Linked DNA regions of Homo sapiens. The protein of the gene in region 2 binds, or shares a complex with, the protein of the main gene of each other region. Each region holds a gene or a part of one and is shown on either strand. Other genes may lie near its edges. A codon is read from its position in the direction of its gene.

Region 1 (16,277 bases), on a different chromosome or scaffold from region 2:
CTTCTAAACTGAAGATTCCTTTTGATCTCTCCTATTTTCTTTATGCATTTTTCCTATGAGGTAAATAAGCTTTTATCTGATTCTTTGGATGAGGTTACAATACCTCAACTACATTAATAGCTGCCCTTCTGACAAAGTAGGTGACACATTGTCCAAAAGAAAACAAGAAGAATATGAAACTGGGAAACAAAGAAAAACATCAAAATTAGTTAATAATCAAGTTGCTACATTGTTTTCTAATTTAACATTTATTATCAAGATAGTAATTATTTTTTTAAAATGCTTGTAATATGTATTACATACATGAACACCAGGAAAACACAAGGTGGTGTAATTTCTTCAACAACCCAAAAGAAGCTGATGCCTTAAAGTCTTCAAAGAAGATCAAGAGTAAACATTTTGATAAGTTTTATTAGATACAAAGAAGTGTGTGGTTTTGTTTTCCTTTGCAACACAGATGCAATGTGCATTGGAAATATTATAGGCAGATAAGGTCCAGTGCAACATGCATTGTGGTCTTTCTCCCTATTATTAGGTTAGTGAAAAAGTAATTGTGTTTTTTGCCATTACTTTCAATTCTATCTAATACCTATTAGATAGAATTATGTGGGATACTTCTTGGTATAAGATGTACTTAACTCCTTGGGGAAAGTATGCCAAATAAAAGATTTAGGGAATACTTTATACATCATATTACCATTCTTCTCTCTCAGTAATTTCTCTGTTTTCCTGCTATTCCACCTTTTCCTCCCTGTCACACTGACCTACTACCAGGTGATCAGAATGTTAAAGTGGTAAAATAATATCGTGGATGAAAAGGAGACATAGGGCCTTCCAACTCCCTAAACATATAAATGCTCATAGATATTTTGAAGTCTCGGAATTGACCCCAAGTGCTAGCTGATTAAAGGAAGGCTTTCTGCATGGATCTCAGTGTCAGTCACAATAAGGGTCTGATCTCTGTCCCAGACTCTCCCAATAGATGTTGCTGTACTTGTCAGTTTCTCAGATCTGTTGTAGAATGCAGTGACAGACACACTTTCTCTGGGTTTTAGCAGCAGGTTAATTTTTCATCCCTTTTTTAACTATACAAACTTTTAAACTTACCCCAATAGCTGCTAAGATCGGTGCTTGATAAATCCACTTGATGTCTCCAGCACTAAGTTCCCAGCACCTGAGACATTGAAAAAAAGCTGTCATGAATAAATTGGCAAAGCAAATGGGTAGTATTAAGTAGAATTTTAAGTTTTACCAAAAACTCCAACCCCACACTTCCAATTAAGAAACAAATAGACAAAGAAATCTTATCTTAAAACACCCAAGCCAGTGGGGGGAAAAAGTGTAACGGGTATTGATTTTCATATTATTAGCTACCCCTTGAAGATGAGTAGAGAATTATAAATATTAGTGAATTACTTTTATTGTGACGAGAGTCAACCATGTTTCCAGAGCCACAAAAGGTAATAGTCTTCTAAATGTCATACAACTGATACTTCACTTTTACTATTATTGGAATGAGCCATGATAATTTAAATTCACTGATAAAGAAAGTTCTCTCTCACAGACATTACAGCAATTCTATTTTACTTCAAAAATTGTAGAATCCTTACAATAATGCAAGTTATTCTTATTCATAGAAATGCAATAGAAAATGAACGCAAACTATTCCTGTCCATAGAAATGAAAATTAGCTATGATGTTCAGTGGAATGTAATTGATTAGTATCCTGTAAATATTGAGTAGTTTTTGCATTTATTTGTAAATTTTTGGTATTTATTGTACTGAATGTAAATGTGGTTCTTTAGATTTCTCCTTGGAACCAATCATAACACCTTAGTAGTTCCCTCATTAACTAATGAGGTTAAAATATCTAGAGAAATGCAAATCAAAACCACAATGAGATATCATCTCACACCAGTTAGAATGGCTACTACTAAAAAGTCAAGAAATAACAGATGCTGGTGAGGTTAGAGAGAAAAGGGAACCCTTATATGCTGTTGGTGGGAGTGTAAATTAGTTCAACCACTGTGGAAAGCAGTATGGCGATTCCTCAAAGAGCTAAAAGAAGAACTACCATTCAACCCAGCAATCCCATTACTGGGCATATTCCCAGAGGAATATAAAGCATTCTACCGTAAAGACACACGTATGCAAATATTCATCGCAGCACTGTTCACAATAGCAAAGAAAGACATGGAATCAATCTCAATCCCCATCAATGACAGACAGAATAAAGAAAACGTGGTACATGTATACCATGGAATATTATGCAACCACAAAAAAAACACAAGATCATGTCTTTTGCAGGAACATGGATGGAGCTGGAGGCTATCATCCTTAGCAAACTAACACAGGAACAGAAAACCAAATACCACGTGTTCTCACTTATAAGTGGAAGCTAAATGATAAGAATTTGTGAAGACAAAGAAGGAAACAACAGACACTGGGGTGTACTTGAGGGGGGAAGGTAGGAGGAGGGAGAGGAGCAGAAAAGATAACTATTGGGTACTGGGCTTAATACTTGGGTGATGTAATATTATGTACAACAAACCTCTGTGACACATGTTTATCTACGGAACAAACTTTCACATGTACCCCCAAACCTAAAATAAAAATTTTTTTAAAAATCTTTGACAGCTGTCCATTTTCTATTTGTATAAGATCCACGACCTTATCCTAATTTTAAAAAGTTTGTTTTTAACAGTACTTAATTTAAAAATTATATAATTTGCCTATTTTTTATATTTGGTGCTTCCCTTCCACCCTAACTTGAGTTTAAGTTCTACATGGGCAGAGATCACTGTTGTTTTTGTGTTCTGATGTATTGCAAGTCCTAGAACAGTATGTAGGTAGTCAATAAATATCTATTGGATTGAACTGACATCAATTGAATTCAAATTAAGTTTTACTCATGCTCACCCAATCTGGTTTGTACTAGTAAAGATCTTACACTGGAATAAATAGCACAGAAATGATAAGAAACTAGTACGACTTGGCACTTTAATATAACACTTGAAACAAAAGACGCACAAATAAAAGTCTTAAGTTTCTTTCTCTTTTCACAAAACCCAGTATTGATTGTGGCAATGGCAAATAATATAAAGAAATTTGTGGGATATAATGATAGTTTTTTAATTCTAGATAATGAACTTATCACGAACTTACTTTTTATTAATGAGCAAGCTATAGATAATAAAATACCATTTTGACTTTTCCTTAAGGGTAAAACATTTTCAGTACACACTAAGAACTACATATTTTTAAGTTTAACTTTTACATAGAGGCAATATGTTCTCATTTTTAAAATCAAACTATATAAAAAGACAGCCATTGAGATGTCTCAGTCCTCCCCATGTTCCTGTCTGCCTCTGCCCCCATCCCTCTCCTTACAGATAACACCTTTTATTACCATATTGTGTATGCTTCCCATGTTTATGCATATGCAAACAAATACAAAGGTTATATTCTTACTTTCCTCTATCATACAAAAATGTCATGTATGCACTATTCTGCAATTTGCTTTTTCCTTTTAAAAGTGTATGTTTTATTTCTTTGCATATCTGTACCAATAGAGCTCAGCAGCTCCACATTCCAGTGGGAGAATATACCACAGCCAAATCAACCAGAACCTACACTAAAGTGTAATTCTGGTCCAGCCAAAATGAAATGCACATATTCAATTGTCTTGAAGTTTGAATAACATGGAAATTTAAGACACAAAAATCTTACACTTGCATATTATTGAACATTTTCTGGCATTGTTTACATGTATCTGTTTTTCACATTATTTAACCAGACAAGAAAGATAAAAGACAATGTTACTGAGTTATGCAGAATCACATTACCCTAAAAAAGCTTTCTACCATAAGGAAGGTGGCATATATCATGTGACTGTAAATTGAACATTGATTCACTTAGCCAAGATCTAAGCTACAAGGCTTTCGGATTCCCTAAATTTTCTTTTCAGTTTTTGACATTTGGTAATATCTTCACAGTCTTCTTTCTTTGCTTTAATGGCATTTCATCATGGTGTCTCCTAACACATTGGGATTCAATTATACAATTCAGGCTCTATAAAATGCTTGCATTTGGAAGTAGGTCAAAACCAGCTACCTCTAAAAACATGAAAAACTTGTCTTTGATGGTTTTCAGTGTCAAAGTTTCAAATTTCCCCTGTGATATAGGAAAGAAAATTGAGATTTCAAACTTTTTAAAGAAAATGTTATTAATGCTTGTTTTTAGTTAATTCTTCAATGTTCCCACTCACACTGTCTTTGTTAACATGTCCCAGAAATTACTCTCTGTTCAAATTTTTTTAATAAACTTTAACCTTCTAGGAAATGCAGTTCTGGATGGTGAAGCATGAGATACAAAGGTCTGACTAGAAAGTGGAACTTCCTACAGCCAGGGTTGAAAACAGGTGTGTTGTTCTGCCCAAGGGATCCAGAGAATTGAATTGGCTGAGCACTACCTTCTCTCCACAACTTACAATCAGTAAGAGTAGAAGAAGCGAAAGAAGCTGACCCCAAAAGCCTGTGCAGATGTTCTAGAAATGTCAGATGGCTTCTTGGTCCTTTGCAGCCCCCACCTTTGCTGCTGGATGGTGAAACAAAAATACAGCAAAGAAGTTATGGGTTTCTTCTCTCATTGGCATCTCTTATCTCCTTCGAATGAGGCAAAGAGAAGATAATCAGATTACCGTGTAAGGTGTTTTTGCTTTTGTAAGTAAAAAGAAAGAGAACAAAATTGCTCACTTTTTAATTTAATTTGCCCAACCTACTTGATTATCTTAGCTGACCTTAGTAAAATAACACTCTTTTTTTTTTTGAGACAGAGTCTCCCTCTGTTGCCCAGGCTGGAGTGCAGTGGCGTGATCTCGGCTCACTGTAGCCTCTGCTTCCCCAGTTCAGGCGATTCTCCTGCCTCAATCTCCCAAGTATTTGGAATTACAGGCACGCACCACCACGCCCAGCTAATTTTTTTTGCATTTTTAGTAGAGACGGAGTTTCACCATGTTGGCCATGCTGGTCTTGAACCCCTGGCCTCAAGGGATCAGCCTGCTTTGGCCTCCCAAAGCACTGGGATTACAGGCATGAGCCACCTTGCCCAGCCCAAATAACACCTAATAGAATTTTAAATCTGAAAGAGACTTCTTTTGTATATCAATAGAGTTTAAGGTATCTTTTAAAACTGGGTCTGACATGCTTATCTCCAAATAGCCAAGATGCAGAGAAAATCAGAGGTTTCACTTTGAAAGGCCAGATTAGAAAACATTGAGTCTCAAATATAAGACATGAATATGAACCCCATTCATCCTTTGAAGATATTTAAAATCTGTTCTCTCCCCAGAGTGTTGTCATATGGCGCTATATAGGTCAGATAACACCCAAGAAAACCCACAAAAACTTTATCTATAGAAAAGCTGAATTTTATGTGAAGTTGAATCAGGCAATTTTGAAATCATCTCAGAGAAGTGGCAACACAGTTTATGTTTACAGGCAAAATTAAATATAAAATGACCCTTCATCCAATTATCCCAGATCTGGGCACTGTAGAATTCAAGATTTTATTCTGATAAGTTAGGAAGAAAGTGGAATATTTTGCAAGGTGGTCACATGATATAACTAATTGAATGAATGAGTCAAAATTCTGCTTCAGTCTAGCGGTAAGCTTTGAGAATGTGTCCTGATGTCTCTGGATCACATTTTACTTATCTCTAATATGGGATGATTGAACCAGAAAATGCCTTAAGTCCTATCATCTCTAAAATTCTGAATCTAGGTCATACAGTTACACATCTCAGAATATGATCATGATAGCATTAATTAGTACCTCTTTACTGATGCAACTTCCCTCCCATGTAAATCAAGTAACAGGTATTGCAAGTTTTCTTTGAGATTTGCAATCTCACTGTGTGTATATAGCAATAATGATGTCAATTAGATAACATCAACCCTCAATTGTTAACAAATTCAAATAGCATAAAGGGATCAAAGTAAGGAAAAATGCAAAGCCAGCAAGTTTTAGAACTGAGGGAAGCTGATGAATGGGGAGCTTTGAAGCAAGTAGGAGGAAGGCTGCACCTAAAGACAATGACTCTGTACAGTTCTAATTTTCAGGAACAGTGAGTGACAGGTTCTTTATAGAGTTTAGGTATTCACAGTATGTGATTTTTTTTTCAGTGCATAGCAGACAAAATAATTCCTGAAGGAAATATCTAGTAACTCAAAACAATATATTGGCTTAAATAAAGTTCCCAGGAGATAACAAAAAGGGAACTGCTGTCACAAAGCGTACACAATCTGTGGATATTAAATTGTTCTCTATTAACATAAAAGAATGCTTGGCATTACTGCATATATAGGTTAAAGCTGCCTCTCTTTAAATTACCTTTTCTTTATCATAAGTGTGTTAATCTGCTTGACGTGTGATAGCAAAATACCACAGGCTGGGTGGCTTAAACAATAGACATTTATTTTCTCAGTCTGGAGACTAGAAGTTCAAGATCAGGGTGCCAGCATGGTCCTGTTCTGGTGAGACCTCTCTTCTTGGCTTGTAAGTAGCCTCCATCTCACTGTGTGCTCACATGACCTCTTCTTTGTGTGCACAGAGAGAGAGGGAGAGCCAGCCTCTCTGGCATCTCTTCTTATAAGGACACTAATCCTTTCATAACAGGGCCCCACTCTCATGACCTCCTTAACCCTAATTAGGTCCTTATAGACCCTATCTCCAAATAGAGTCACATTGGGGGTTAGGGCTTTAACATGTGAATTTTGGGAGACATAATTCAGTCCATAGCAATAAGCTTGACCATGAGAGCAAAGCGCAGTTACCTGAATGCTTTTCTACTTTTTCCTATTCTTTCTCATCATTATTTAAATAGAAATAATACCAAAAAAAAAAGAATTTTTTCATGTTCATTCATCATGTAGCCCCTCAAGAGAAACACAGACAACTGGGGGGCTCTGGCCAAAGTCCATTTGAGCCAACTGAAAGCCTTTACCAGGCAGCCTCCCTGCAGTCAGCCCCGGAGGCACTTGGGTCAGACAGAAGTAAAGGGCGACTTACAAGCTATCAGACACTTATAAGGAATGATAGGAGATGGGCGGTCAAGATTTTTTTCTGTTTATATATAATGATCGGGCCTTAAAAGTTACTGTTTCTTTACGCACAATGAAGGTAACATTTATTGTTTGTCTAAAATTTGGAGTTTACAAAGCCCTTTCATAATGGCCTCTCATCTAATTCTCAGATCTGTCCCCTGCAAACTCACAGCATTAGTCATGGCCAAGAATATTATTCTCATCTCACAGATGGAAGACTGAGGCTGAGAATGACTGCTGCAAGTCATGAATGGAAGAAAAACCACACCTCCTTATAACTCACAACTTGCATTAACTCAAACTTTATCATTGCTTAATAGATATGGAGCAAAGAGAGAAAAAATGGTCAGCCGAATCCAGAAGAATTGATCAGCATGCACTGAAGAGTTATCTACTGTAAAACAGGGAATTTCATTTATGCCCATTTGGAATTCATGGTTTGTTGGAAAAATGAGACAGTTACACTTGCACATTTAGAGAAATAAGATGATAGATAAGAAAGGAATAATTATATAATATGCATACTAAATGCTGCAGGAATTTGATAAGGAAGATTTATATGGTAGAATAGTAGATTTCAAACGCACTAACAAGGTAGAGCATTTGTAGTTATGGTTTTCACCATGAAATGCAGATATATTTAATTTTATCATGTGAATGAGAAAAACATATGCCAGGAGACAACACTGCATGTATACATGCAATACAAATACACAGGCATGAGCTTATATGTCAACAAAAAATGGGAATTGTTGAAAAGTTAATGGTAGGTGATAACCTATTTCTGATTTAGAGAACAGAAAGAACTAGAAGTTTTACCTCTCTGAGGTAAAAAGACAAAAGGCTAGACATAGTGAAGATAAGAGAAAAACTGTCTAGTGTATGCTGGACATTTTCCACTGTGTACTCTTGATTACCAGATGTGTTAAATCAACTGAAGAGTGAGAAGCTATCAGTGATACTGTAGAAAGAATCCCTCTTCAACTCTACTCCTTCACATATAATAAAAATTCCACTTATCTCAATAGAAACACCTCATCCGCCTGTAAGTGTTTTCTGAATGCCTCTAGAGCCTGAATATCTGAGATCAAAGTACTTTTCTACCATTCGTGGCTGTGCAACCTTGAGCACAACTTCTCTGACCTCAGTTTCATAGAGTTAATAATGAGTTTTAACTTACTTAATATTTGCAAAATTATGAAGTACCTGGAATGTGATCAGCACTCAGAAATGCCAGAAAATGTTTTCATTATTACTTTCCTCCAACATCACGTATTATTACCCAATGTTCTGGTAATTATCTTCACAAAATGCAAATTTGCTGTCGTTATCACTGAACGAAGACCAAACATCCTAATCTGGCCTATGAGGGTCTATAAGGCCTCCACCCCTCATCTTTTCTACAGCCTAATTTATAAGCTCTAGCTTCAGCAGAACCAGGGTTCCATCAACTTGACGGGATAAAAATCAAAATATTATAAGCTAGGATTAATGGAAGGATGAGTTTGGCTTTCTAATGAAATAACAATATACAAAAATGCTATTTTTTAATTCTTTAGACATTACTTGTGAATACAAATTAATGAAGCCAAAGAATAATACTTGCTAACAAGTATTTAGCACTTACTATCAGTACATTCCAAACTTTGCATTAGTTATTTTACATACATTATCTCATTTATTCTTACAACAACAACTCTGTAAAGAGTAGTATTCATTTTAACTGCATTTGACAGCTGAGAAAACTGAGGCTCAGAGAGGTTAGGTTGTACATCTGCTGTTCCAGAACCAAGAAGTAGCAGAACAAGCCTATAAGACACCTGTACCTGAGCTCCTTCTCAGCACACTCCCATTTAGTGCCAGGTACTATGCTAAGTGTTCATAATAATGTATTAATGTCATCTATACATTATTATCTCTGCTTTATACATGAGAAACTGATACACAAAGAGATCATGTGTTTTGGGTCCGTTGGTCCCTAACCTAACAAAGCAGTTAAATCAAGATTTGAACTCAGGTCTGTCAAAATATAAAGAAAGGATTCTTTACTATTTAATGCAAATGTACCCTTTACACTTAAATGGTTATTTAAATGTATTAGGTGTACCATGATACATTAAAATGTATCCTTAAAAATGATACATTTTAAATGATTTATAGCATTGTTTTCTTGTACTTTAAAATGACACATTAAATTAGCTCCATGCTACCTGGAAGAACTTAATGACTCACAGTTAGAGATAAATTCCACTTCTAATATGTGTTTATTATTTTAAAATATTTAATTCTGCTATAGAAGATATGGTAACAAATGGGATGCATGAAACCCACAGTTTGCATTAAATATAGATAAGGATGAGTTAGTAGACCACACGTGTGTTAAACCCAGGTACTAAAGACACATGAGGCAACTGAGCTCTAAACATTCATAATATACTAAATATACAAGAGCCATGAACAATCCCTGATACAAAGGAAGTTCTTAATATTTTTGAGGGCATTATCAGCCTCAAAAATATTTTGATTTTGAGGATTCATGGATTGATGGAACTCCTTCCCACATGTCCTTTTCCCAAGGGCCACAAATAAAACCCAGAACTTCTCTGCAGGCTAATTCAGAAGCTACAAATGTAGCCAGTGTACTTGCCTCTCCATCTCTATGAGGAAGTATGTGTCACTGGCCCAGGGCACCAGATTCTGTCTGTAGTTCCCCTTCGTGCTACCTTATCGCAGGTCCTCATAACCACACCATCCTCAGGAAAAGTTGATGTGGCAGAGAGAGAGAGAGAGAGTATGAACACTGCCTATCCTAGGAATCAGGTAGTGTAGTTCTTCAACCTGCTTTCACTAAATCCTAAGTGGATTCTCTTACCCATCTCTTTCCACTTGCTTCTCACATTATATTTTACATTTGTTTCTTAATCTATGGAGGTCAGGCACCTTCATCTAGTCTGCGAGTGTTTCTGCTCTATGACCTCTGGAATAGACAGCTTGCTGGTAATGTGTTGGAAGCTACCATCGCATCAAGGTAATTTTCCTTGTGGCATCCCTAAAAAGCAATGGCATCAAGAACAGAAGCGAGTGTGAATTCTGAGCAGGAAGCCTGAGTCTTGAGAACATCTGAGGTTCTCTCGTTTCCCCTGCCTTTTCACTCACCTCGCATCAGCCAGAGTTGCTCGTGCCACAGCCCATGCTGCAACAAATGCTGCTGGAAACCCTGAAATCAGAAAATGATTCAGAGACTAGATTTATTTTAAGATTAAGGAGGTTTTTTCCTCAAATTCACCATATATAAGAATATACTATTAGCTGTTCAGAGATAAAAATAGACATGAAAATTTCTGATATGTGAACAAGAAAAGTCCACTTAATTTTTAATCATGTCAGTTTGAGAAATTAGCAAGAATATTGATGTTATTTGTTCCTCTAGTCTGAAGATAAAAACTGGCCTAATTTTCATCTGAGGGGTGTAGGGAAAAGCCATATTTGGAGAAGAGTGAAGTTCCTAGGGTTGGAAGTAAGCAATGGTTGGCATTTGACTTTGACTCTTGTCACGCTGACCATCATATGCTCTCAAGGAGTGAAGCAACACAGGGACTCCTGAAAAGCTGAGGGATGCTGTTGTTTTAAAAACTTAGAATTTTTTCATCCTAAAAATGGAAGGCATACTGAGGCAAGTTATAAAAATCAGGAAGTTTTAACCAGTTTAGTCTCTTCTTTTAGTTCACGTTGGCACAAGACAGAAGCATTTTCATGCATTAATAGAAAAGGGTGACCACTATATTTGTCTGATGATTTGAGCGCGAGATATTTGTCCTTCATAAGTGCTAAACACCTTCTGGGCTTGTAACATCAAATCCATTATACCGACTTTCGTTTGCCCCCCAGTAAAAGTTCACTGTCCAGCTCATGTTGTATTTGATTAAACTCTGACATCACACACAAAAAAATCATGAACCATAACTTATATGGAATACTGCAGTAGGGGACTGAAAGACTTAAGAGATGACTTTTCATTATGTGGCCTTTATGAAAGTGGTTTAAATAAAGGATATACAGAAACCATAAGGAAAACATTTTAGAATCTAGGAAGCACCTTACAAAAGGGGAAAACAAAATTTTGGTCTAGCCAAGAACATTTTTTATCAAGCATAACTTTAAATTCTTAACCTTTAAAAAAATTGTAATTTTTTTATATTCTTTCTTAGCAACAAAGTGAACAAAGAAATAGGCTTAGAAAAAGAAAATTTTCAGAAAAAGATGAAAATGATGATATGCACAATAATGTCTTTGGTCTCCTTAGTGACCATCTAACTTAAGTTCAGCCTGCCTATATCACTACTGAATTTTATGATTCTATATTCCAATTTTATTTCTTGTTTCTATAGTATTCTTTCTTTAATCTGCTCAAATTCTGTGTTCTAGGAATTTTTTGTCAAAATAGACCTACCTAATTCTGGTTATTTCTTAGGTTCAGTTTGCATATTCTATCTATCTATCTATCTATCTATTTATCTATCTATCTATCACATTTCTCCATTAATCATTTATTGTCTATTTATGTGTCAAAGATTGTTCTAAATGATATAAATAATGAACAAATAAACAATATCCCTGTTTTCTAAAACTTATATTCTGGTGAAGCAGTCAAAATTAACAAAGCAACTTCAGTTGCTTTTGGTTATGAATTGGTGCTATGAAGAATAAATAAAAGTGATACTATGTAATGGGGAGGGGACAGCTGCTTCTGGTAGGATGATTAGATATAAATCCACCATACAGTCTGGCATAGATTCTACCACATGGCCTGACATAGATCCCTCAGCTGTTCTATCTTGGTTGTCTTCAAAAAGTGTCTGCCTGTCTTTCATCAATTTTCACATCTTATCATTCTTATATCTGCATCTTCTGCTTCCTTTACATTCTTCTGATCAGGTACTTCCTGAATGCTGTTCTATACAGTATTTATTAATGGTGGTTGAGTTGGCATTATGTTTTAGATGATAATTATGTCAAATATCGTACACAGGCATTATGTCTTCATAGAATTGCTTTTCTCACCTTCTTAGAGAATCTTATGCATAAGACTAGCATAGAGACTACCATGGAAGAATGAAGAACAGAAAACTACTTTGGGATCCTTTAAGGATTTTTTATCACGAGTCTTAATATGAATTGTTACATAATTTAGAACACAGAAATAAAGGCAAAAATACTTGACATGTAAATGTTGTTTTAAATTTAAATGTTAAATTAAGTAAATTTAATATAAATTTAAATGTTATCTAGTATGTGCATTTACTGAAAGTTGAGTTATTTTCTTTTTTTTTTTGAGACGGATTCTTGCTCTGTCACCCAGGCTGGAGTGCAGTGGCATGATCCCGGCTCACTGCAAGCTCCGCCTCCCGGGTTCACACCATACTCTTGCCTCAGCCTCCCCAGCAGCTGGGACTGCAGGCGCACGCTGCCACGCCCGGCTAGTAGAGACGGGGTTTCACCATGTTAGCCAGGATTGTCTCGATCTCCTGACCTCATGATCCGCCCACCTCAGCCTCCCAAAGTGGAGTTATTTTCATAAGACACGTCAATACAAAATAAATAAGTTTTGTGAAGACAAAACTTTAAATTAACTTTAAAATAACTACAAATTAAAAATGTTGAATATGATACATATGATCACAACAAGAAAACAAACAAAATAACCTAAAGGGTCAGAGTGCATGCATCTTGTGTGGGAGACTTTAACACCTGTCTCTGTGTTTAAACACTTACTGCCAAGTGGATGATCAAAAAATGTTTGCTGGATTAAGATATTTTACAAAGGGAATAAAATGGGAGTGTGGGACTGTTTCCTGATTATTTTCAGGGAACATATTATGTGAAAATATTCTATGTAAGATGGTATTACTAGGATAGGTGGTTTTATATGATGATATGTACATACTGGTGTTTCATCTGACAGTTGAAAATTAAGGATGGCTACTAATATAGAAGCAAATTACCATATTTAGTAACAATAAAAAAAAGAGATACCTTTTACATACAGAATTAAAATAGAGGAAAATGTGTAGTTGAAATAAAATGGAACTAAGAATAAAGCACCTTATTTATGGGAAAACTGAGACAAGGATGGGGAAAATAATAATGTGCTTGGTTGAATGAAAAGAAACAGTTATCATTAGTATTCACCTTTATTCTCTATGCATCTTGTTTTATAATAATAAAATGTAAAAACAGTTATTTTAAATATTTGTCCTTAATTTAGTAAAGGTCAGATATGACACCTATTCTTCTTCAGATTGTCATTTCCTTTCCTTCCTATTATTTATTTATTTATTTATTTATTTATTTATTTATTTTTCTTTTTGTTTTTTTTTTGAGATGGAGTCTCGCTCTGTCACCCAGGCTAGAATGCAGTGGCGCGATCTCAGCTCACTGCAAGCTCCACCTCCTGGGTTCACGCCATTCTCCTGCTTCAGCCTCCTGAGTAGCTGGGACTACAGGCGCCTGCCAGCACGTCTGGCTAATTTTTTGTATTTTTAGTAGAGGCAGGGATTCACCGTGTTAGCCAGGATGGTCTCAATCTCCTGACCTCATGATCCGCCCGCCTCGGCCTCCCAAAGTCCTGGGATTACAGGCGTGAGCCACTGCGCCCAGCCTCCTTCCAATTTATTTTTAAGAATCATCATAATCAGATTGCACATGGTCGCTCACATCTGTAATCCCAGCACTTTGAGAGGCCGAGGCAGGAGGATTGCTTGAGGCCAGGGGTTCAAGACCAGCCTGGGCAACATAATAAGACCACATCTCTAACAAATAATAAGAAATAAAATAATAAAACATTTAAAAAGAAAAGGATCATCACAATCAATATAAGTGTAACTCCACACATTACTACAATGTGACTAACAGAGTTCTGAGTATTTATCTAGCTGAAAAGAGCTTAAAGTTATAAACATTTGGGTCCAAATGAGTAACAAAGGAATTTAAGCAAGTTCTCTGCTCTAATGAAGCCAGTAAATGGCATCATTGGAAGTAAGTATAAAATTGGACTCGCTCTCAGTTATTCTAGCAAAGTATCCTGCAAGGCATATATAATGTTTTTGATCATTTAGAAAATGAATTTAGAAAAATGAGTCAGATATATAAATAATGTTTTTAAATCAGTCTCTCAGTGTTGAGATAAGAGAAAGACAATCCATAAATCAAACAGATTTTGATATGTACTTCATTCAGTGATAGCTGTGTTTTAGGAGCAGAGAATCTTAAAAGAATACTACTATTATTTTCATTATATATGCCCTAGACTAGAGTATATTTTTAAAGAATGGAAATGCAAAGAGAAAGTCAGAAGACAGACTAGCTGTAGAACCATAATTCCATGAAGAATAGTTATTACTCTTTTGACTTGTGGCTAATTAAGTGAGCAAAATGTGGCATGTAAAATGCGTTCACAGACAGTTTCCATGAAAAGTCAACCGGTTTTCATGTGTGTTCTCAAACTATTTCACGAAATGAAGATTTCTATTGTAGTTGTCATTTCTATGCCTAAACTTTTGTGGGCAAATTAATAAAAGCTGTAAAGGAAGGTAAGAAACCATACTTGCATAGAAGCTCACTAGCACCTTAGCTTTTCTTCACATTCTCTTTTTCATAGAAAGATTTGTGTTTTCTGAGATTCGGTGGGACAAACTCCTAACTGTAAGGAGAGACAGACTGAGTGATAAAGCCCAAATAAAGAGTTAATAAGGAGGCTTGCACCAGGTAGCTATCAAGGCATAAATAAAGAGAAAAAAAGAATTTATTAAAAATGTAAGCAATGATGAAGAAATTTGAAAAATAAAATATAACCCAAATAAACAAATGTCTACATTCATTATTGAATTTTCTATCAACACCTTTTCCAACTCCTAATAATTATGTGGGTTCACAGATATAATTTTGATTTGAAGGAAGGCAAACTACCACAAATTGTCAAGAAAATTTCCAAAGGATCCTAAAAAAGCAAAATATTATCTTTTTTATTTTCAGTAACTGCTAGTCAAAGATAAGAAAGAGCCTTAAAACAGACGAGCTGTCTACAAAAATACAACTTTAATTGTGATGATTATTTCATAATAAATAAGTTTAACAGTAAATTGATTTTCTTTGTCTTCTTAAAGGTTATTAATTAGCTAGCAGAAAGTTCAGCATTCTTTACTTCACATTTCAGTTGTTAAGAAAAAAAGTTAAGGCAAAATAGGCAAAGGCATATTCTTATTTTGGAGAGGAAAAAAACCTTCAAATTTAGTCGTGAGCTACTTAGTGAATTTTTTTCCTATGCTGAGCACCTCCTAATTTAAATATTAAAATAGCAATTGAGATCTGCAACTGTTAATCTCCAACCTCTTCTCAATTTTCACCACATATGAGTTTTAATTTCCCTTAATTTTTAACAAGCAAACAATTTCTTTTCTCCATGTCATGTTGAGTCAGTGTCTAATCCAGTAATCCCCCTTGTACTGCTAAATCATTTTTGAAATGAGAACTGAATACTTTTTTAATTACTTATGCCAGAAGTAATTTGAATAATTTCCTTCTAAAACACATGGTAAGTCCACATAATTAGTTTGTAATTTGTATTTGTTAAATACAGTCAGGATGGTCCTACAAATTCATTTCTGGCATTCTCATCATATGACCTAGAAATACAAACCAAAAATATATCATTATAGCTTAGAAATTCAAAAATAAAAAATTTTAAGATGAAATTATTGATAAAGCAGAACACTGACATTTAGTTGTACATGTGTATGGCTTACAATGAGTTCTCTTATATTTCCTCCAAAGAATCCTCTCAAGAATCTGGCCTAAGAACACTATCCACAAATAACTTTAAAAGTTTGTCACCACTGGGAGAATTATAGACTTGATCTTAATTATTTTTGTCTAAGAATAGAACAATAAAAGGGAGATAAAAAATAAGAATGGGAGGGATTGTTTCAGGAAAATGGCTGTAGGGATGCTAATGATGGGCATGACAGAATGTCATCAAATGCATCATCCAGTTTGAAAGGAACAGAGATATAAATGTCTTACCCCAGCCTATCAAGATGAAGCCCCACAGGTATTTGGTGTCCGAAAAGAAAGCCACAAAGATGAGATTATGCAGGTAGAGACCTTCCACCAGGATCC
Region 2 (15,372 bases):
GTCAGGGCTGGGTCTTGGAGAAGTAGGGGCCTGGTTAGGGTGGGTGCGGGTGGCGTGGAGGGCGCGAAGAGGCCTGGGCGTGGAGGTGGCCAGACTGGGGTGGATAGACGCGGTTTGGGGCTGGAGCAGGTCTGGAAGGGCGGTGTGGGGCAGCCTGCGCCTTGCTCCGGCCGACACTCAGGAGACGCGGGCCCCCCCCGCCCCCGTAGGCTTCGGCATGGAAGCCACGCTGCTGTTGGTGGTCGGCTACTCGCACTCCAAGGGCGTGGCCATCTCCTTCCTGGTCCTAGCCGTGGGCTTCAGCGGCTTCGCCATCTCTGGTGAGAACCGCGGATCCGCAGCTTGGGGGACTCTGGTCAGCTCTGTAGGGAACTTCCTGGCTCAGGAACGGGGCCTCTCAGCCTCACAAAAGGTGGAACATGAGTGGCGGGGAGGGGAGAGGGTTGAGAACGTCCCAGTGGGAATCACTCGAGTGAGATTCCGGTGTGACGCCTTCCGACTTGTCTCTCCGCCAGGGTTCAACGTGAACCACCTGGACATAGCCCCGCGCTACGCCAGCATCCTCATGGGCATCTCCAACGGCGTGGGCACACTGTCGGGCATGGTGTGCCCCATCATCGTGGGGGCCATGACTAAGCACAAGGTGGGTGCCGCAGTCCTGACTCAGTCTGCCTCCAAGTGTGTGCTTCGTACCTAACTGACCACGTGGTGGCACTGTCTCTGGGGTGCCATCCCTGCCTTTTCAGCCTCCCTGGGTCTCTGCCTCCCTTCCTCTAGGCCTCCCCCTCTCTCCGCCTCTGTTTCTCTGTCCTCCCATTTGACCTCAGCCCTATTGTCCCCTGCAGACTCGGGAGGAGTGGCAGTACGTGTTCCTAATTGCCTCCCTGGTGCACTATGGAGGTGTCATCTTCTACGGGGTCTTTGCTTCTGGAGAGAAGCAGCCGTGGGCAGAGCCTGAGGAGATGAGCGAGGAGAAGTGTGGCTTCGTTGGCCATGACCAGCTGGCTGGCAGTGACGACAGCGAAATGGAGGATGAGGCTGAGCCCCCGGGGGCACCCCCTGCACCCCCGCCCTCCTATGGGGCCACACACAGCACATTTCAGCCCCCCAGGCCCCCACCCCCTGTCCGGGACTACTGACCATGTGCCTCCCACTGAATGGCAGTTTCCAGGACCTCCATTCCACTCATCTCTGGCCTGAGTGACAGTGTCAAGGAACCCTGCTCCTCTCTGTCCTGCCTCAGGCCTAAGAAGCACTCTCCCTTGTTCCCAGTGCTGTCAAATCCTCTTTCCTTCCCAATTGCCTCTCAGGGGTAGTGAAGCTGCAGACTGACAGTTTCAAGGATACCCAAATTCCCCTAAAGGTTCCCTCTCCACCCGTTCTGCCTCAGTGGTTTCAAATCTCTCCTTTCAGGGCTTTATTTGAATGGACAGTTCGACCTCTTACTCTCTCTTGTGGTTTTGAGGCACCCACACCCCCCGCTTTCCTTTATCTCCAGGGACTCTCAGGCTAACCTTTGAGATCACTCAGCTCCCATCTCCTTTCAGAAAAATTCAAGGTCCTCCTCTAGAAGTTTCAAATCTCTCCCAACTCTGTTCTGCATCTTCCAGATTGGTTTAACCAATTACTCGTCCCCGCCATTCCAGGGATTGATTCTCACCAGCGTTTCTGATGGAAAATGGCGGTTTCAAGTCCCCGATTCCGTGCCCACTTCACATCTCCCCTACCAGCAGATTCTGCGAAAGCACCAAATTTCTCAAGACCCTCTTCTCCCTAGCTTAGCATAATGTCTGGGGAAACAACCAAAATCGCAATTTTAACAATATGCCTCTCTACCCCCGTGCACTTTTTCTGACATGGTTTTCAGGTCTAAATAGTGGCTGCTCCAGTCCATGAACTCAAAGGTTTGAAGCTACCACCATTGAACTCCCCCATGGTGGTTTCATGATGCCCCCTCCCCAATTCCTCGCACTTTATTCTCCTGGGTGGTTTCGAACTACCCTGTTTCTCAGTGGCCATTTGTTGTGTCCCTCAGGGGCTTAATGACTCAAAATCTGGGATCCTTCCCCTCTCAGACACCCCTCTTTCAGCTTAGAATTTGGGGAACCTATAGAGAAGTCACAGAATCCCATGAAAGGGAATGGGGCAGGAGCCAGGGGTGTTTTTTCCCAGTGCAGGGTTGTGTCTTTGTGTCTCTGTCTCTGTGACTGTAAATCCTGCCCTGCCCCACTCCCAATAAAAGCTTTGGTGTATAGGCTCAGTTGTTCTTGGCTGTGGAGGTCACAGGCATCCTGGTCCCCAGCCCCGTCCTCCCTCAGACCGAGGAGTTCAGGCCCCTAGCTCCTCCTTCCTCAGTTCCAGGGATCCAGGCCCCAGCCCCTCCTCCCTCAGACCCAGGGTTTCAGGCCCCCAGCCCCTCCTCTCCCGGACCCAGGAGTCCAGGCCCCAGCCCCTCCTCTCCCGGACCCAGGAGTCCAGGCCCCAGCCCCTCCTCCCTCAGACCCAGGAGTCCAGACCCCCGTCCCTCCTCCCTCAGACCAGGAGTCCAGGCCCCAGCCCCTCCTCCCTCAGACCCAGGGGTCCAGACCCCAGCCTCTCCTCCCCAAGTTTCAGCGGTCTCAGACTCCAGCCCCTCCCACCCCAGGGCTCAGGCCAGAGGAGGGGTCTAGCCATGGGAACATGATATTTATTCGGTCTCAGACCTTGTTCTCTGATCACAGCGCAAGCATCTCTGTATATTAGACCCTTTATCCGGGGCACTACTCTAGCTAAGCATACCAGAAGCGCAGGGTTTTCCTTCACTGTGGGGATGTGCAGGTCCGGCAGAACTCGGTGGGGCTCACACGAAGTTGTTGGGGAGCGTGGCGGGGGACAGGGCCTCCAGACGCTGCGGGCGACCCCCGCGGGGCGGCGGGGGCAGCTTTGGTGGCAGAGGAGGTGTGGGCGGGGGCTGCTTGGTGGCGATGTGGGAAGGGACCCAGGTATCCGGAGCATAAAAGTAGAGGTCGTAGGGGTCTTTCGGGGCGTCCAAATGCAGAACTGTGGGTGCAAAGGGGCGTGGTCATCTCTGGGCTGACCCTCCAGGCCCCCTTCCAGATCATCTCCAGGGCCGCTTTTGTGCGGCCGACCGATCAGGAGGCCGGAGAGAGGATTCCGATTCTGCATTTGAACTGAGTTTTCAATAAAAAGGGTGGGGGCCGCTGCAGAAACCAGGAGGCGTGGCGTCCGATCAGCAGCGGCGGGGCCTGCAGTGGAGGGCGGGAAGTACAGGGCTCCGGGCCGCGTACCTGGAGGGGCAGGGGCGGGGCTGGCGGGGACGGCCGGCTCTGGGCCTGAAGCCGTTTCCAACCGCATTGGGAGCGGCACTGGACTCTTGGGTGAAATTGCAGACATTTAGGGGGCTGGACGTTGCCATGGAAGAGCCAGGGCTTTCATTGACCTTGGGTGGGGGACCTGTGCTTTTTTGGCTGGCGCCCTGTAGTGCCGGGAGAGACCAGGTTATGGAAAAGTGCAGGCATTCAAGGGGCAGGGCGCTCACCCGGTTCATCTCCGTCGTCCGGAAGCCGGTGATGTGCGAAGGGCCGCTGTCTAGCTGCCCGGCGGTAAAGACACCACAGCAGCACAAAGATGCCGATCAGCAGCGCGGTCCCCGCGAAGAACAGGCAGAGGGCCCCGCCTGCTGCGCCACGTGGTCGCCCCACCAGAGTCACGCCTGAAGGGGGATACCAGCAATCTAAGCTCCTAACCCCCTCCTCTCTCAGACCCAGGGGTCCAAGCTCCTAGCCCCTCCTCCCTCAGATCCAGGAATTCCTGTTCCCAAACCCTTCTCCCTCAGACCCAGGAGTCCAGACCCCAGCCGGTCCTCCCTCGCACCCAGGAGTCCAGGCCCCCAGCCCCTCCTCCCTCGGACCCAGGAGTCCAGGCCCCCAGCCCCTCCTCCCTCGCACCCAGGAGTCCAGGCCCCCAGCCCCTCCTCCCTCGGACCCAGGAGTCCAGGCCCCCAGCCCCTCCCTCAGACTCAGGAGTCCGGCTCCTGCCCCTCACCGGTCTCCTTCACTCGCTCCACCACGATGATGGTGTTGACTCCCTCACCTCGGCTGTGCCTCTGGGGTGCCCGCAGAGTGGCAGGGGCCAACTGACTGGGGCGCCCTGGAAGAGCAGGGGGACCTGCAATCCGGGCTGAGGGAGGAGGGACGTTGGACTCCTTAGGGCCAGAGTTCTGGGGGGCCTTCAGCTCAACCATTCCTGGAGAATCTGAAGTGGGCAATTTTGGGGAGTCGGGCTGGATGGCTGCAGGTGTTCCTGGTTTGGGATTCAGGGACAGCTCATTTAGAGCAGTGGCGTCATCCTTGAAGGGCACAGGTGTTTCTGGGTAGAGACTAGTGGAGATTTGAGGGTCGGAGGTCCTGGGTACATCTGTTGCATTTTGGTAGTAGGTTGTGGGGAATTCTGTTTGGGAAATTTCGGTGGGGCTGGGATTGTGGGTCACATGGGATTCTGGGTGGGGGGTTTTAGAAGGGTCAGGATGGAGAGCTTGGAGAAATTCAGAGTTTGGGGTCTCAGTGGAGTTGAGGTCATGCTTTTCTGGGGATTTGGGGTCAGGGGTCTTGGTAGGGTTAGTGTTTGAGGTCTCGGGGAGTTCTGCCTGTGAGACTTCAGTGGCATTAAGCTGCAGAATCTCTGGGGATTCTTGGGGTGTAGTTTGCATAAGGTCAGTGTTTGGGGTCTCAGGAAATTCTGGGCGTGAAGTTTTGGAGAAGTTAGGTTTGGGGGTCTCAGGGGATCCTGGGTGTGGCATTTCAGTTGGGCCAGGTGTGGGGGTCTCAGAAGACTCTGGGTGTGCCATTTTGGAGAGGTTAGTTTTGGGCATGTCCAGGGATTCTGATATTGAGGTTGTGAGTGAGTCAGCTTTGGGGGTCTCAGGAGACTCTGGGTGCGGGGTTTCTCGGAGGTCAGGGTTGAGGGGCTCAGTGAAGTCAAGTGGGAAGGTTTCCAGGGAAACCGTATGAGGTAGCTTGGAAGGCTCAGGGTAAGGAGTCCCAGGAAATTCTGGGTTAAGGCGATCTCGTTTGGAATTTTCAGAAGCACCCTTCAGAGGGGAAGTCTCAGAGGGGTGGGCCATGTCCGGAAAGCCACAGCCCAAAGGCAGAGGGGCTGAGGGAGCGGCCTTGGACCTCAGGCCGGCGAGGAGGAAGACGAGGAAGAGGATCCGGCTGAATGATTTCATAGCTCTGGCAGATACCTATAGCTGCGGGGGAGAGCGGGAAGGAAGGGGTTAAGGCCGAAGGCTCCCAGGAGCCCCGCCCACTCCCGGAGGCCACGCCCACTGGAACACAGGTGGACCACGTCTGTCCGGGGCCCAGCTTGGCGCCAGGGATGGGAAGAGAACCCAATCGCAAGTCCCTTGGAGGCTTGTGGGGCGATGGCCCAGGTAGCCAAGAGAGACTGAGGCGCGGGGCTACTTGGGAGTCGTAGTTAATTTCCTTATCTGTTTCAGCGAGGGGTCCTAGAAAAATTGGGAAAGAACGACACTTCTCCAGGCCTCAGATCTCCTCGACTTCGACTTTAGGGAGTGTCAGGGCTTCGAGGGGACGTGGGATCTCCTTCCTCTCCGAGGTCCCCCGGGACACCTTGACTCAACAGTTGTTTACACTACAGGAGGCTCCTAACGGCTGAGGGCTGGACTCATGGATTTGAGGGAGGAGGGAGACATTTGGGCTCTGGGTTAAGAAGGTTGCTGGGGGTTCAGACTCCTGCGTCTTGCAGGGTGAGGGGGCTGAGGTTCCTGGCTCCTGGTTCTTTAGAGAGGAGAAGGCTGGAAGTTCAGGTGCCTAGAATTTTGAGGGAGCAAGGTTTGGGGGCTGGATTGCAGGGGTGAAAGGAGATAAGAGGCCTTGAGCTCTTGGTTCCTGAGTTAGAAAGGAATTGGGAGCTCTGAGTCCTCCAGAAATAGGGTCTGGGGTCTGGGCTCTGCAGAGTAGAGGGGTAGGGACTTGAAGAAGAGAGCTTTGGGGCAGGACTCTCAAGTCTGTTATTGAAGATGGAGCTAGGATTTCGGCATCTCCGGGGCCAGTCTGGGCAGAGAAGCATAGGTCTGTGTTCAGGTGGAGGTGGAGGCGGCCGACACATCGATGGGACAGGCTTACTTGAGGTCCTGGGGTCTCTTACCTGCTCTGGTGTCCAAGGTAACAGCAGATAAGCAGAGCTGGATGCAGAGAACGGTGAATGTTGCAGAACAGATCTGGGCAGGGCGGTGGGAGGTAGGGTCTCAGGGGCACACAGGTGACGCACCTCACCCCCTCCCAGGGGATCCTGGGAGCCTAGCGACAGACTTAGACTCTTAAAGGGACAGAAGTAAAGGACATTTTCTCTGGGGTGGGGAAGGGAGTTAGAAACTGGATTGATCTAGTGGAGATGTGGCCCAAATTATTTTTTTGAAACCAGTGGTCCTGGCCCTCTACCCTCTCCTACCTGAAAACCCAGGGGTCTAGTTCCCTGGTACCTTCCTATTTCAAGTCCCCTAAGTTGTATCCCCCAGCTCCCTCCCCCCAGACTCAGAACTCCAGTCCTCTAGCTCCTTCCTTCCTCAGATTCAGGAATCCAAGTCCCCAGCCTCCTCCTTCCCCAGAACATAGGAATCTGGGTCCCTGTCCCATCCACTCTTAGACTCAGGAGTCCAAGCTTCTGCCACCACCTTCCTAGGAAACTAGGAGCCCAAGTTCCCACATCCCAAGTTTCTACTGCTCTGTAGGACTTCCAAGTTTTGCCCATCTTCTCCTCACTGTGTATAAAGGCCCCTCTTTTTAAATTTTTTTTTTTTTTTGAGACAGAGTCTCACTCTGTTGCCCAGGCTGGAGTGCAGTGGTGCGATCTCAGCTCACTGCAACCTCCCTCTCCCAGGTTCAAGCGATTTTCCTGCCTCAGCCTCCCAAGTAGCTGGGATTACACCACACCTAATTTATGTATTTTTGTAGAGAAGGAGTTTCGCCATGTTGGCCAGTCTGGTCTCGAACTCCTGACCTCAAGTGATCCACCCACCACGGCCTTCCAAAGTGCTGGGATTACAGGCATGAGCCACAGCACCCGGCTGAGGCCCCTCTTAAGAGTCAGTGTGGACTGGGTGTGCTGGCTCACGCCTGTAATCCCAACACTCTGGGAGGCCAAGGAGGGCAGATCACAAGGTCAGGAGTTCAAGACCAGCCTGGCCAACAGTTTGGCGAAACCCTATCTCTACTAAAAATACAAAAATTAGCTGGGCGTGATGGTGGGCACCTGTAATCCCAGCTACTCGGGAGGCTGAGGCAGGACAATGGCTTGAACCTGGGAGGTGGAGGTTGCAGTGAGCCGAGATAGTGCCATTGCACTCCAGCCTGGGCAACAAGAGCAAGACTCCATCTCAAACAGACAAACACACACACACAAAAAGAGTCAGTGTGAGGAGGACTGGGCTTTAATCTTCACAGCACCCCCAAACTCCTCCCAGATAAGGGCTTAGACACATCCTTAGGGCAGCTCAGGAGCCCTGTCTGTTTTCCCCTCTTCTCACTCTCTGAGGTTTTTCTGATGTGGTCTGTCACTTTTCCTGTCCTCACACCCCTGCCACACGTACCCTTTGCCATTTCTTGCCTTTCCCCCCTCCCTACCTCACCCTCGATCTTTCTGGGCCTCTCGCTGCTGTATTTATCTCTGGGCAGCTCCTTCCAGACCAGGACGTCCTTCCATTTCCGTCTGTCTTTCTGAGAGCCTTTTCTTTCCCTCCTCCATCTCCATCTGACTGTTCGTTTCCATCTCCTTCGCTCTCTTTTCTTGTTTTCTTCCTTTTCCTTTCTTTTTCTGTCGTTCCCATTCTTTCTCTCTATTTCTTCCTCGGCCACTCTGTCTTTGTCCTTCTCTTTGTGTCTCTGTTCCTCTGACGGTCCTTCCGCCAGTCTCTATTTTTAGCCCTCTGACACACCCCCTGTGTCCACCTCTCTGTCTGTCTGTCTCTCCCCCTCCCTCGTCTCAGGTCCAGCTTCTGGTCCCAATTAGTTGGTGGCGGCCAAGGCAGCGGCAGGTCCCCCACCCCCGGCTCCTCATTACCGCTGGCGGCTCCTAATGAGCCTGGGGAGGGGGTGACCCCGCGTCCCCGGCCCCCCGGCCTGCGTCACTGCCCGGTGCGGGGGCTGCGGAGGCGATATAAGGGGGCTGCCACCATCGCTGCCCCAGCCCACTGCACGGTAGGGGACTGTGCGGGAAGCTGGGGGTGGATGCATGGTGGGGCCCGGGGTTCTGGGCCGGGATGCAGCCCTACTGAGCCCCTTTCTGGTTCTCCACAGGTGATGGAGACCCGCCAGGTGTCCAGGAGCCCTCGGGTTCGGCTGCTGCTGCTGCTGCTGCTGCTGCTGGTGGTGCCCTGGGGCGTCCGCACTGCCTCGGGAGTCGCCCTGCCCCCGGTCGGGGTCCTCAGGTAGGTGCCAGTCCCAGAACTCCCAGGGAGGGGTGGGAACTTGGAGAAGTGGGAAGAGAACCAAAGAGAAAGGGGACGGAAGATCCAGAAAGCGGAACAGAAGCCCAAAGAGAGGGCGACCGAGACCCAGCGAGAAGACAGAGACTAGGGGTGGGGGAAGGCGGGAGGAGGGTTTGGTGGTAGTGGTGGTGCGGGAAATGGACAGAAAATCAGCAAGGGAAAGAGACACAGAAAGATAGATCCCGAGAAAGGCGTGGAGAGGCTCGAAAGGAGTCGTTGCAGAAACGGATTCATTCTTTGAGCAACGTTTATTGGGTTCTTGGTGTGCGCCTGGCCATGCGCTGAGCGCTGTGGGCGGACAAGTGCATCAGACTCGGTCTCAGTACCTGGGGAGTTTCGAACCTGGTGAGCAGAGAGACAGAGACCCACACAGAGAACGAGAGAGACAGGGGGAGCCGGACCGAGCCACTCCACGGACTGGGCAGTAACGGGGCTTCGAGTTAGACCGCGGGGAGGACAGGCGGCGGCAAGAGCGAGTCTGGACGCGCGGTCACCGCGTCTCTCCACAGCCTCCGCCCCCCAGGACGGGCCTGGGCGGATCCCGCCACCCCCAGGCCGCGGAGGAGCCTGGCGCTGGCGGACGACGCGGCCTTCCGGGAGCGCGCGCGGTTGCTGGCCGCCCTCGAGCGCCGCCACTGGCTGAACTCGTACATGCACAAGCTGCTGGTGTTGGATGCGCCCTGAGCGCGCTGCCCGTCCCCATCTTAATAAAGACCATGCCCTGCGCTCCGGACTGCGCCTAGTTCCTGCGCGACCTGCGTGTGCGTTGGGTTGGGGGCGCGGGGCTTGAAATGGGGGGTAGAAAAGAGACAGGACTCTGTGTCGGCCACTCTGGCATCTCTCTCCTCAGTCCCCACTCTATTTTCTTTCCTCAATTCCGTTTCTCTCTGCCTGTCTTTGTCCAGGAAGCTGGCTTCTTTCCTATTTCTGGATCTCTGCTTCCCTATCGCCCCCACCCCCCCGCCCCCTCCTTTCATTCTGGGCCCCTGTCCCTCCCTACCCCCATCTCTGTCCCCTTCTCTCTGGTTCTCTGTAATCTCCAAGGTCTCTGTCCTCCTCCGTCTCTGTCCCTTTCTCTGGGTCTCTTTCCTCTCTGGGTATGTGTCCCCGTCTCCCTGGGTCCTTGTGGTTATCTCCCCTTTCACCCTTTTGGCTTTCTGGTCTTCTGGGAATCTCTGCCTCCTCTCTCTATTCTCCTTCTGCCTCTGAAACTCTTCCTTCCCTTCTCCATCACTTTCTTTTTTCCTTTTTCCTCTGCCTGACTCCTTCATATCTTCCTTTTCTTTCCTCCGTTAGGTTTCTATCTGTCTCTCCATCAGCTCTCATCTTTGAATTTCGCTGTTCCTCCCTCCCATCACTTCCAGACTTCTCCCCAGGCACAGTGGAAAGATCGCGGGCTCTGGTGTGAGGCAGCCCTAGCATCCAAACCCAGGGTCCTCCAAATCTAGCTGCGTAGTACTGAGAAAGCCTTCTTGACGTCAGTCTCTGTGTCTCCTTTTCTTCATCTGTTACGAGGATCCAATAAGATATACTTCATAAGACTTCAGTACAGCGCCCGTTACGTAGCAAAACGCTTTTATTTGAAAAGGGTTTCCTCTTCTCACAGCAGCGTCCAGCAATTTTTTTCAGGGTTTTCTGACTTCGGGTCTCCTTCTCTAGAGACCTTCGGGGCGCCAGGCTGGGGCAGGAGAAGAGAAAGGAGCAGGCGTCAGGCTCCAAAAAGGACAGGGAAAGGGCGGGAAGATACCTGGGCTGCAGGTGAAGCGAGAAAAGAGCCAATCGAAATCTGTCTCTCTCCCCGGAGGTCCAGCCTGCCCTTCAGCTCCGCCCCTCGTGGTAACCATGGCAACCCGGTGGTCCGCAGAGGGCTAGATCAGCGCGCCTGGGGCGCCGTTCGTGCGGACCGCGCTCTCATTGGTTTAAAGAAGAGAGTGGAGCCGGCCGCGTCTGCTGCGCGGGAAGCGGGGCCGCCGCGCGTGTTTGGCAAGGCGTCCCAAAATTTGCATTTTCGGGAGGCGGACCGAGCCCTAATTGGCCCTTGGACTGTGGGGGCGGGACTGTTTCCTCTGTCCTTCCGAATAACAAAGGAAAGACTGCATTCCTCAAAACTATCTGGAGTTGGCCTAATTTTACAAATAAGACTGAAAGTCAGGAGGAATTTTCCTAAGTTGTTAGAGCTACTAAGCGACAAAAGAATAACTGGAATCCGGGTATGTGCAATTTCAAAAGTCTAGACTTTTCCGCCACTCTCATGGAGAAATGGAATGAAAATGTGAATGAGCAGTTGCTATATAGCAGGCACTCTTCTAAGTGCTGTGCTTGCATTAACTCTTTTAACCTCACAAAGACCCTATGAAGAGCCTCCTCCTGTTTCCCCGCGGGCCTGGTAGCTGGGTACTGGCCTGGTCTCTTCCCACACTCTATTTTCTTCCCGATCCGTATCAGAACATTTGAGGTTTTGCTCAAAATGGTGTCTGGAGCCTCCTCCCTCCCCACTCTACTCTCAAGCAAATTCAGCAGTCCCCACAGCTTCTGCCACCACCCACAGCTGACAACACCCAGACCCCCTTCTCCAGCCTGGGAGCTCAGGGCTCAGGACTCCAGCCCCTAAATGAACTGAGTCTTTCTCTGAACTCACTCCTTATCATGGGTTCCCTATCTTGGGAATGGCTCCACTGTCTACTAGTCACTGGGCCAGGTCCCAGGGGTTGTCCTTGTCCTGCCCCTTTCGCCATCCTTCACAGCTTGTCAGTCTCCAGCCCGGTCCCTCCCACCCTGCCCTGGCTCTGCTCTTCCCTCCTCTCCACCCACATGCCCTGCCTCAGGCCTCATTCTCTCCAACCTGGACCACAGCCCCAGACTCCTCCCCACCTGCTGGCCTCCATTCTCATCCCCTTCATTCATTCATCTCCTCCACAGGCCCTGAATGCTCTTCTTCCTACCCAGAGTTCTGCCTTCCCTTGCTCACAACCCTTTTACCGGCACTAGGGAATAAAGTTCAAGCTGGTGTTCAAATCCCTTCATGGGCTCTTGCCTACCTCTCTTATTTCCCACCACTCTGTAGCCTTCAATCCCTCCCAGGCTCCAAATCTTTAAAAAAAAATTTTTTTTTTAAATCCAGCAACAGGATGCCGCCTATGGCTCTCCAGACACACTGGTCTCTTTCCCACCTCTATGACACCCTCCCTGGGCCCCTGCTGACTGTAACCCAAACCTTACCCATCTTTCAAGACTAAACACAAATGTCACTTGTCTGGAAAGAATCCTGTAACCTCCAAGCCGAATCAGTTGCCTTTTCTGGACTCTCACAGGACCTGCAGCTACCTCCATCTGTCTTTAAATAGGTCCGATTCTGTCCCTCCCTTGCTCAAAACTCTCCAAGGAAGCATCTGGGGTGCTGAAACTGTCTACTCTCTTGACCTGGGCTGTGATTTTCATGGGTATATACGTACACAAAAGTTTATCCAGCTGATACTTAAGATTTGTCTGCCTATCTGTATGTAAGCTGCGCCTCAATTAAAATGTAAAAAACCAAAGACAAACAAGCAATAAAACCTCCCAAAGCCCCATCATTCTCAGGAGAAAATCTAAGCTCCTCAGCTTGATGTTGGAGGTCCTGCTTTCCTCTACAGCTTCATCTTCTAAGGTCTAGCTGTTGCAAAGAGATGATGAACACATATTTGTTGAATGAATAAATGGCACCCTGGTGCTTTTCCTGTTTACCATTTGCACTCTAGAGGACAACTCTGGTGTGTGCCTGGTCCTCATCCCTGTCCTCCTTTTTCTGTAGAGTTGCTGCTGCCTTCGACAGCTGTGACTGGAGGGTCTGGTGGGGCTGCCAATCTCGTGATCCTTCTCCTTGGCCACAGGGATGGGCATGGGCCCCACACACTGCCTGTCATAGCAGCCCAACCCCCTGGGAGCTGGGGAAGGGGACCCTCCTTTGACTCTCCTGGTTGAAGGTGGGGCCCTGTCTCCTTCCTATCTTGGGATTTTCCCAGGCAAGGAAGGATGTTCAACTCATAGGCTGCTACAAACAGCAGACAGCCACCGTGTGAGTTCATTTGCTGAACTGGACTCAGACTGAGTTTGGATCCCAACTCTCATAATTTTTAGCTGTGACATCTAGGTCAAGTCATTTAACTTCTCTGTGCTTCAGTGTCTTCATGTGTAAAGCAATAATAGCACCATCTACTTCCTAGTGTTGAGGTGAAGATTAAATACATATCTCAAAGTGCCTAGCTCAGCGCCCTCCCACCCTGGGGCCAGCCATCCTGGGTGTCCACTCTTGTTGTTTACAGGGAGCGTTGGAGCCATGGTGTAAGGATCTTGCTGGCGGTGCTATGAGGCAGGCAAAGCTTGGGGCATTCCCTGCATAATACCATGGGCCACATGCCACACAGAGTGGGTGCCCAATCATGTATTCTTTTCGGGAGTAGGGTAGGCTTCTCAGACTCCATCTGCTTCCCTTTGGTGTCCTCAGCTTTACTCCAGCTGGGAAGGGGCTTACAGCATAATGATGCCTCAGAGCTGCACCATGCAGATGGTCCATGTGAATAAGAGGGAGGGGTTGGGGTCTCGCATGTGTTTTTTTAATTTTTTTTTTGTTTTTTGTTTTTTTTTTTAAGACACAGTCTCACTCTGTCTCCCAGGCTGGAGTGCAGTGGCACAATCTCCACTCACTGCAACCTCCGCCTCCCGGGTTCAAGTGATTCTGTGCCCGGCCCAAGAAGATTGTTCTTTATTGACTTAGGATGCAGTTGGGACTGGGTCAACCTAGGCTGCTACCCGTGGAGGGGTGGCAGGACAGAGTCAGGATCCTATCGGGGGAGGGCAAGGCAGAGCTGTAGAGAAGGTAGGAAGGAGAAAGAAATCAAGGAGAAGAGGTATCCTGGAGCCCTTCGAAGCAGCTTGGCCATGCATGCCAAGGCCACTCAGCAGCTGCACACTGGTGGTGGTGTGTAGGTGACTCCCAGAGTGTTTGTTAGGTCCATGGCCTGCAGTGTTTTTCAGTGTGAATGAGGTGTGTGGCAAGGCACTTTCAAGGTACCCAGTCCCCGCAGAGGTACTTGACCTCCCAGGTCTCCCAGCCTCCCTTACAGTTAAGGGTGGTCACACCAAACAGTCTGGCTAGTGAAACAAACACAAGTCTGCTGGTGGCTCTGGGCAGGCAACTGCTTCTCTTTTATTATGAATATGATTTGAATCTACCCACTGCACACTGAGGCTACTGCCTCTCTTTATAAAAAGGAAGGAAGAAATTTCCGTTTCCCGCAGATGTGATGTAGGAAGCTACAACTGCCAACTCCTGAGCATGAGGGAGGGGACAGGAGAATCACTGAGGCCCTGACCCCAAGGCAACCGAGACTTAGCTGTGTGCCCACAGCTGCCCTCGCCAGGCTTGTTTTGTGAGGGAATAATCCTTAGTGCTTAATCCATTACTGGGGGAGTTTTGCTATTGTTAAGAAATGTCAGCATTAAAAAACTAGGAGACTTCACATAAAAATACAGGGATGTGGATCCCCTGTACTCTATCTAGGGTAAGCCTGCGCAACAGTGGACTAACAATGGGGATCCCAGTGGAGAGAGGGCCAGGGGATTTATTGAGCTAGACACTGCTCTGAGGGGCAAGTAGAGCCTCTCACACTGGAGGGGGCTGGAGGTAGCAGAGCTGGAGGTGGGGCCAGGTGGGAGGTGGGGACGGGCCAAGCAGCAGGACAGAGAGCAGCAGCAGCAGCAGCAGGCCCAGGACAGGAGCTGGGATCAGTGGATGTCGAGTGACTCTGGTGGGGAGGTGGGAGAGCATTTAGGGCAGGGTCTGGGCAGCCCCTGCTCTTCCCAATGTCAGACCACCTCCTTCCTTCTGGAGACGCCTGGGGGCACACCTGAGCCGCTGTGGGGGCAGGCAGAGCTGGCCCCAGGCCCTCCTCCTGACTGGGACCAGCTTTTTCATCACAGGCACCAGGGCTTGCTGGAGTTCCCGCCGCGCAGGTCTGCTGGGGTGAAGGAGGGAATCACCACTGGGTTTTTCCTTGCCCCAGTGTCCCTCCTGGACCCTGTGGGTCCTATTACCTCTCTGGAGGGTTTTCTGGGATGTCTCCAGGGCGAGGGGCTCCTAGAGGGACAGGGAGATCAGCCTGCAAGGACAGAAGAGATGCGTTGGAGGCACCGGGTTCTGGACTGAGAGGTGCTCAGGTCAGCCCACTGGACACAAGTGGCCACATAGAAAGTGGTGGAGCTCAGGAGATAAGTGAGTGCACTTCTGCTGCCAGGTCGGGTTCCCATTTCTGCCAGCTTCTGGCTGAGGGTCCTTGGCATGTCACCACACCTCTCCGTGCCGCTCTTTCCCCATCTGCTGGCCAGGGATGTCCCCACCTCATAGGGTTAACATGGAGACTAAATGAGTGAATGTAGGAAAAAAAAGGCGGGGGCAATAGCTTGGACAGCGCCTGGTACATAGTGAGTGCTCAATGTCTGTGTGAGCTATTCAATATCATCACCTCCGTTTTCCATTGGATTCTGGAAGTATCTAAGCTCTCTGAGGGCAGAGACCACATCTTCTACAGGTGCCCACCCCTGTGCTGGGCCTCATGAAGAATCCTGTCTTCCTGCCTATGCCAGAATCGGCAGGCGCTTTACTAATTAAAAACATGCCATTACAGGCCAGGTGCAGTGGCTCATGCCTGTAATCCCGGCACTTTGGGAGGCTGAAGCGGGCGGATCACAAGGTCAGGACATGGAGACCAACCTGGCCAACATGGCGAAACTCCGTCTCTACTAAAAATACAAAAATTAGCCGGGCATGGTAGCACGTGCCTGTAATCCCAGCTACTTGGGAGGCTGAGGCAGGAGAATGGTGTGAACCT

What was found.
Region 1: the proteins of PTH2 (region 2) and PTH2R are in contact, whole or in part, in a cryo-EM structure (PDB 7F16), measured with the Homo sapiens proteins. Residues at the interface, in NP_848544.1 of Homo sapiens: Ser62 (codon at 9,071), Leu63 (codon at 9,074), Ala64 (codon at 9,077), Leu65 (codon at 9,080), Ala66 (codon at 9,083), Asp67 (codon at 9,086), Asp68 (codon at 9,089), Ala69 (codon at 9,092), Ala70 (codon at 9,095), Phe71 (codon at 9,098), Arg72 (codon at 9,101), Glu73 (codon at 9,104), Arg74 (codon at 9,107), Ala75 (codon at 9,110), Arg76 (codon at 9,113), Leu77 (codon at 9,116), Ala79 (codon at 9,122), Ala80 (codon at 9,125), Leu81 (codon at 9,128), Glu82 (codon at 9,131), Arg83 (codon at 9,134), Arg84 (codon at 9,137), Trp86 (codon at 9,143), Leu87 (codon at 9,146), Tyr90 (codon at 9,155), Met91 (codon at 9,158), Lys93 (codon at 9,164), Leu94 (codon at 9,167), Leu95 (codon at 9,170); in NP_005039.1 of Homo sapiens: Thr31, Ile32, Ile34, Gln37, Ile38, Asp68, Gly69, Leu70, Ile90, Tyr91, Asp92, Phe93, Met112, Lys117, Ala120, Tyr122, Leu126, Gln130, Pro131, Ser134, Lys137, Gln138, Phe141, Glu142, Tyr152, Arg190, Ile194, Lys197, Val201, Ile205.

What each region holds. Positions count from the first base shown.
Region 1 is NC_000002.12:208,444,792-208,461,068, reverse strand, and holds part of PTH2R (parathyroid hormone 2 receptor isoform 1 precursor), read right to left. Parts: coding exon 16,182-16,277; intron 10,321-16,181; coding exon 10,260-10,320; intron 1,175-10,259; coding exon 1,108-1,174; intron 1-1,107. UniProt on the Homo sapiens protein: This is a specific receptor for parathyroid hormone. The activity of this receptor is mediated by G proteins which activate adenylyl cyclase. PTH2R may be responsible for PTH effects in a number of physiological systems.
Region 2 is NC_000019.10:49,416,286-49,431,657, reverse strand, and holds PTH2 (tuberoinfundibular peptide of 39 residues preproprotein), read left to right. Parts: upstream 1-8,216; 5' UTR 8,217-8,318; coding exon 8,319-8,446; intron 8,447-9,015; coding exon 9,016-9,190; 3' UTR 9,191-9,239; downstream 9,240-15,372. Other genes in the region: SLC17A7 (vesicular glutamate transporter 1), read left to right, coding at 210-320, 516-643, 846-1,139; GFY (Golgi-associated olfactory signaling regulator precursor), read right to left, coding at 2,840-3,039, 3,539-3,712, 4,045-5,227; protein KASH5, read right to left, coding at 14,148-14,289, 14,392-14,502, 14,579-14,643. UniProt on the Homo sapiens protein: Plays a role as a potent and selective agonist of PTH2R resulting in adenyl cyclase activation and intracellular calcium levels elevation. Induces protein kinase C beta activation, recruitment of beta-arrestin and PTH2R internalization.